Linked DNA regions of Homo sapiens: region 2 is linked to region 1. The links come from fine-mapping of genetic effects on gene expression. A gene starts in region 1. The other region holds a variant in brackets. All regions are shown on one strand. Distances are between the middles of the regions. Region 1 holds the start of MRPS28 (mitochondrial ribosomal protein S28). Region 2 overlaps TPD52-MRPS28 (TPD52-MRPS28 readthrough).

The links. PIP is the estimated chance that this variant, and not a neighbour inherited with it, causes the effect.
Region 2: its variant is fine-mapped to the expression of MRPS28 in nasal epithelium (TOPMed, PIP above 0.99).

What each region holds. Positions count from the first base shown.
Region 1 is chr8:80,028,774-80,031,565 of GRCh38, reverse strand. MRPS28 (mitochondrial ribosomal protein S28) reads left to right here and starts at 1,307. Exons shown (of 3, transcript NM_014018.3): 1 at 1,307-1,530. The coding sequence starts at 1,318. The region is part of intron 5 of TPD52-MRPS28 (TPD52-MRPS28 readthrough); the gene reads left to right. It also overlaps a transcript of TPD52 not described here. RefSeq lists an enhancer at 1,155-1,584.
Region 2 is chr8:79,977,893-79,980,684 of GRCh38, reverse strand. The region is part of intron 6 of TPD52-MRPS28 (TPD52-MRPS28 readthrough); the gene reads left to right. All of the region lies in intron 2 of MRPS28 (mitochondrial ribosomal protein S28), which reads left to right. Among named protein-coding and RNA genes, the nearest start is that of MRPS28, 51 kb to the left of the region's middle. The variant T/C (reference allele first, on the strand shown) is at 1,324.

The DNA of each region.
Region 1 (2,792 bases):
TTCTTGAAGACCACTGGCCATGCTCTTTACAATTTACCACACTTTCTCCTGAAAAAAAGTGGAAGTAGCACTATCCGTAGAAAATAATGTTCTAGGCAAGAGTCCATTAATAGTCTCGGGAGATAAACAGTTTTAACTGCCAAGAGGGAGAACTCACCTGGAGAATTTAATGAATTTGTAAGGACTACCATACAGTTAGCTAGTAATAATTTTATGTGATTCATACAATTGTGCACCATTCTGAGATCAGTGTACTTCGTGTTCTTAACACTATCTGTACCATTAGAGAGCATCAGAAAAGCTTAAAACCCATAGTCAAGGCATTCTTAAAATAGGGTCTGTGATCATAAAAATTCTTTCTCTCGAAGTACTTGCAAATGAACTGGAAAGGTGTGTGCCCCCAAAATAAAACTAACTGTGGATTAATATTAAACTGCTGGGTCAAAGATAGACGGACAACTAATTAATAAACACTTAAGAATGATGTTAGGCTGTTTTGAACAGGGTGGGTAAATTTTGGGAATTAACACTGCAGGAGAAAAGGGAAAGAAAATCCAGAGTGAGGGTGGGGGCCTACGGCGGTGCAATACTTAGGGACATTCCAAAACTTCTGAACTCCTAAGTTAGATAATAGGTATCTAGAGGTGTCAAAACATTTCAGAAAAACTATTTTTGTGGCGTGAGTGGACTGGCTGCAGAAGTGGCAAAGGACAAACTTGGATGCAGGGTTTGGCAAATGTTGGGTGAGCCCTAATCTGTGCCTGGTGCTAGGGACCCTACAGCAAAGTTCCTCTTTTCAAAGTTTAAAAAGTTGGGAGTAGACACTAAATATTATTAAATATTTAATATTAATATGTGGCATATTAGAAAGTGCTACATGGTACTAAGAAAAACAGGTGCCAGAGAGTCTGCATTTGGGCTTCCACTTCTAAATAGGGTAATCAAGGAGACCCTCATATTTGAGTGAAGACCCCAAACTCGAGTGCTGGCGGCCATGTAGGGGGGACGGCAGGGCGGGAGAACGAGCGTCGCGTTAGCAGAATTTACAGTACAATGGGGTCCAACGGATGCCCAGGAAGGCGAAATTCCTGCAAGTTAAACGCACTTCTAACGCAAAACTTAACCAGGCCCCTTTCCAACTATTTAGCCCACCAATTTTAGCTTAAGTCTCTTCTTCCCCACGCCACTCCCAGATGAAAGGAAGACACGCCTCGTTGGCCTCCAGAGCTCTGCGTCCGGGGGGCGGACCTCTCATAGCTCCGCCCCGTGACCCGCGCGCTTGCGGAGGGGAGGTCAAAGGTCAGAGGTAAAGAAGTCATGGCGGCGCTGTGTCGGACCCGTGCTGTGGCTGCCGAGAGCCATTTTCTGCGAGTGTTTCTCTTCTTCAGGCCCTTTCGGGGTGTAGGCACTGAGAGTGGATCCGAAAGTGGTAGTTCCAATGCCAAGGAGCCTAAGACGCGCGCAGGCGGTTTCGCGAGCGCGTTGGAGCGGCACTCGGAGCTTCTACAGAAGGTGGAGCCCCTACAGAAGGTGGAGCCCGGGCGGGTGAGAGGGAGTCGCGGGAATTACGCCAACGACGCGGTGGGCGGGGTCGGGAATAGGGGCGGAGCCTGGCTTAGGAAGGGGAGCTGAGGTCCGGGGCCCAGTTTTCCGGAGTTGCGGTGCGTTGTGGCTCAGCCCTCGGCCCCTAGAATCTGTGCTTGGTGTTTTTCTTCCTTTCGTTGTCCTTTTGTGTGGCATTTGCGTACTGGGCCGGGTCTGTCCACACTGCGCTTGTTTTCCTGGGATTGAATGCTGGTGGGAAGGTAACCAGCGGGGAGCGCTGCTGGGGAGGCGATCTAGGGCGATTCCTGGGACGCTAAGGAGAATGGGACTCACACGGAGAGGCAGGGCTCTGCTGGGTCTTGTTCTGAACAGTAGCTCTAGCATGGAGCTTGCTGTCTGGAGTAGAAGGCCCTTCATAAACATTTGTTAATTTAATGACTGGGTGATGAATCACTTTCTGAACTTGGGCAAGTGATTTAACTTGTCAGCGCTTCACCTCTCTTTTGTAAATGTCTTCTTTTTTTAAAAAGTAAAGTAAAATCTCCGTTTGTCTCAGCCAGTACTTTTGTAAAATACCATAAATTTATAGATAAATGAAATGGAAGAAATAAAATTACAAGCCTAAGTTTTTAATAATTAAACTCAGCAGACATGAAATTGAATTATATACAAATAAACTCTCAATTTCTGTATTTTTCTTCCTAGGGAGTAGTACCAAACAGTTCACAAGACTGGCAGTGTCCTGGGTTATAGGGTCATTTTAGTAGCAATTACTGATGTCAAAATTTTTCTGAAATCCAAGGACTAGAAGAAGCCTGGTATATTAGTTTATTATTTTCTGTTGTAACAAATTACTACAAATTTAGTGGCGTAAAACACAGGAAATGTGTTGTTGTTAGGGTTGTGAGAAGTCAGACGGGATCTCACTGGTCTAAAATCAAGGTGTTGGTGAAGTTGTGTTCTTTTCCGTAGCTTCTAGGAGAATCTCTTCCTGGCCTGTCTTTTCTGCCTCTGTTTTCTACTTTTTTGTTTTTTGGATTTTTTTGTTTGTTTTGTTGTTTTTTGAGACAGGGTCTCGCTCTGTCACCCACGCTGGAGTGTGGTGGCATGATCTCAGTTCACTGCTAAACCCCCTGGGCTCAAGTGATCCTCCTGCTTCATAGCTGGGACCGCAGGTGTGCACCACCACTCTGGGCTAATTGTTTTTTCTGTTTTTTTTTGTAGAGATGGGGTTTTGCCATGTTGCC
Region 2 (2,792 bases), 51 kb after region 1:
ACCAAGTCATTTACCTATTGGTAGGGTGTTTCAATTATTGGTTGAATATACTGTTCTTAGTTCCTTTGGTGTTACAAAGGGATGAAGTTAACCTCCAGTGAAGAGGCTGTAGTAACCTGTTTTAGTGAAGAAATGAGAGCCATTTCAATTTTAAGAAAAATAAAATCAATGTCAAACAAAATCAATGTCAAATTAAATGAGAATTTATTGTTTTCTAGATTTGAAAACTATAGGGCATTTTCTGCCTGTTCTTGTCTTCATAGTTGGCTATGTTGTCATAATCATTATAGCCAACATTTATTAGCTGTTAAGTCTTAATTGTACTCAGTCACTTTTCTAAGCATAATACTAGTTAAGATCATGGCCTTGGAAAGATTTCTGGATTTGAATCCTGGCTCTACTCCTAACTAATTGTGTGATCTTAGGCAAGTTGCTTAACTTTGGAGCCTTAATTTTCTTGTCTTTAAAGTGGTTGAAGATAGTACTTACCCCCAAAGTGCTATCAAAGTACTGGTTGGTGTGAGAATTAAAGTTGTCATCATTATCACAACAGCTGGCATTATTGAACCTTTTCTATGTGTCAGACAGATACTATGCTTTACATACGTCTTACTAGCATCACCCTTATTTAATAGATGAGGAAGGTGATTCTCAGAATTTGTGACTTTCCAAATCATTTAGACTTGTGTCAATTGCAAATAGCAGAAAACTTGTCTACTTGTGGCTTAAAAAGATAGAGACTTTTTTTTTTTTTTTTTTTTTTTTTTTTGCGTGAGAATCCTGAATGTTAGTGGCTACTGGGGTTGTTTTAGCAGCTTGACAATGCTTTATGCTTTAACATCAACATGAGGCTTGGGGCTTCTTGAGTCATGCATGGTACAGTAAGGCTGCTGATTCTACAGACCACATGTCTGTGTTTAAGGGAGGAAGAGAATGGGAAGGAAGAGATTGGGGAGGGCAGGTAGTTTTCATAAGGGTAGTTAAAAAGCAGACCTGGGATGAGTGCAGTGGCTCACACCTGTAATCCCAGCATTTTGGGAGGCTGAGGCAGGAGGATTTCTTGAGCCCGGAAGGTTGCAGCTGGAGTGAGCTGTGTTTGTGCCACTGCACTTCAGCCTGGGTGACAGAGTAAGACCCTGTCTCACAAGAAGAAATAAATAAGTAAAAAAATTTCTTTTAAAATTTATTTTTTATTTTTTTGTCCCTTTTACCAGGAAAACAAAAGCTGCCAGACTTCAGTTTTCATTTAATTGGTCAGACCTATACAACATATCTAGCTTCTCCCTAACTGCAGGGAAGGCTCTGAAAATCAGTGTTTAACTT[T/C]TTCATTGTGGCTGCTTCAGGTGAGAAGGAGACTGGGAATATAACTCTTGTGTCACCTAGCCAGTGGGTTCTGCTGCTGTGCCTGAGCTCCCACCACTATTAAGTGGCAAAGCTGGAATTCTAACTCAGATGTCTCTTCCTCCAAAGTCCTAATTCTCCAGTTCTGCCTCTCAAAGAATAAAGGCTCCCGTATTATAAAGATTTGAATGAACATTATCCAGCATCTACAGATAGGTACAGTTTTTTTCTTGAAATTTTTCCCTTTTCAAAATAAAAAATTTTATTTACCTTTTTAGGCTGGCTGTATTTTGAAAGTATAGGTTATGTGTTCCTGTCTTCAACTAAAGATACAAAACAACACAAAAAATTAGTGACTGAATGTATTTTATATTAGAAATGACTACTAAGATATGTTTGTTTCAGAGAATTTCTGATAACACTTTTCAACTTTCAATAGTGAAAAAAAATACATCATTAAAGTAATATGTTCTTGCCTCTTTCCATTCTGATTACTACATTTTAACTCATGTAAAATGAGTTTGTTCTATGCTCATTTCCTAAGGGGTGGTTATCCACTGATTTCATTTTCTGGAAAATAAAATTATGTCACAATTCTTGGAAACTGCGTATTTATTTATTTATTTTGTTTTGTTTTTGTAGAGATGGGGGTGGAGTGAAGAGTGGGTAAAATTAAGATCATAATCCAAATTCTCTTTTCAATTGTCAAAAATATAACCATAGCTTACTCTTATATCCTGTCTTTTTTCAAGGATAAATATAGTAATGCTCTAAGTTAGGAAACATTATCCACAGTTTTTAGACAAGGAAACTGAGACCTAGAGAAGGTATGAAATATATGCAAAGTCGTGAGCTAGTACACAGTAGAGTTTTGTATTGAAGCCTGATCTGATCCACAATGCATGGTGAAGATGAAATCCTGATCAGTCTGTCACTTCGGACAGATTCTTATCTTCCTAGTTGTTTTAAACTACTTAGATTACATGTTTATCAGGGAAAAAAAAAATACAACTGTCACTTTCTAAAAATTTTAACATCTTTTTGTTGCAATAATCTTTTGTAAAAGAATTAAAAAACATTAAGTATAAGCCTAGTTCACCTTAGCCCACACTTTGCAATTTGTTTCACCCTATCACTTTACTGTTAAGTATTATCAAGTAATATTTAATTAAGTTCACTTAAATTCAGCCACACCATTGTCAACCATAAGCTGTCAGTCTCTAATAAATAGATGGACTGTTCTTATATTGTCTTTCCTAATCTGAATTCCAAAGCATGTCTTTTTAACTAATTACATTATGATGTGATCTGTCTACATTTCTATTTTCATATTTATTTTTTTAAATTGGATAATTAACCAAGCAAATAGTTCTAGTTGCATTTTTTGTAAGAAAAAGGGAAATAGGAAAAAGAAGTATTTATATATCATAAATATAAAATATGGTGTTTTT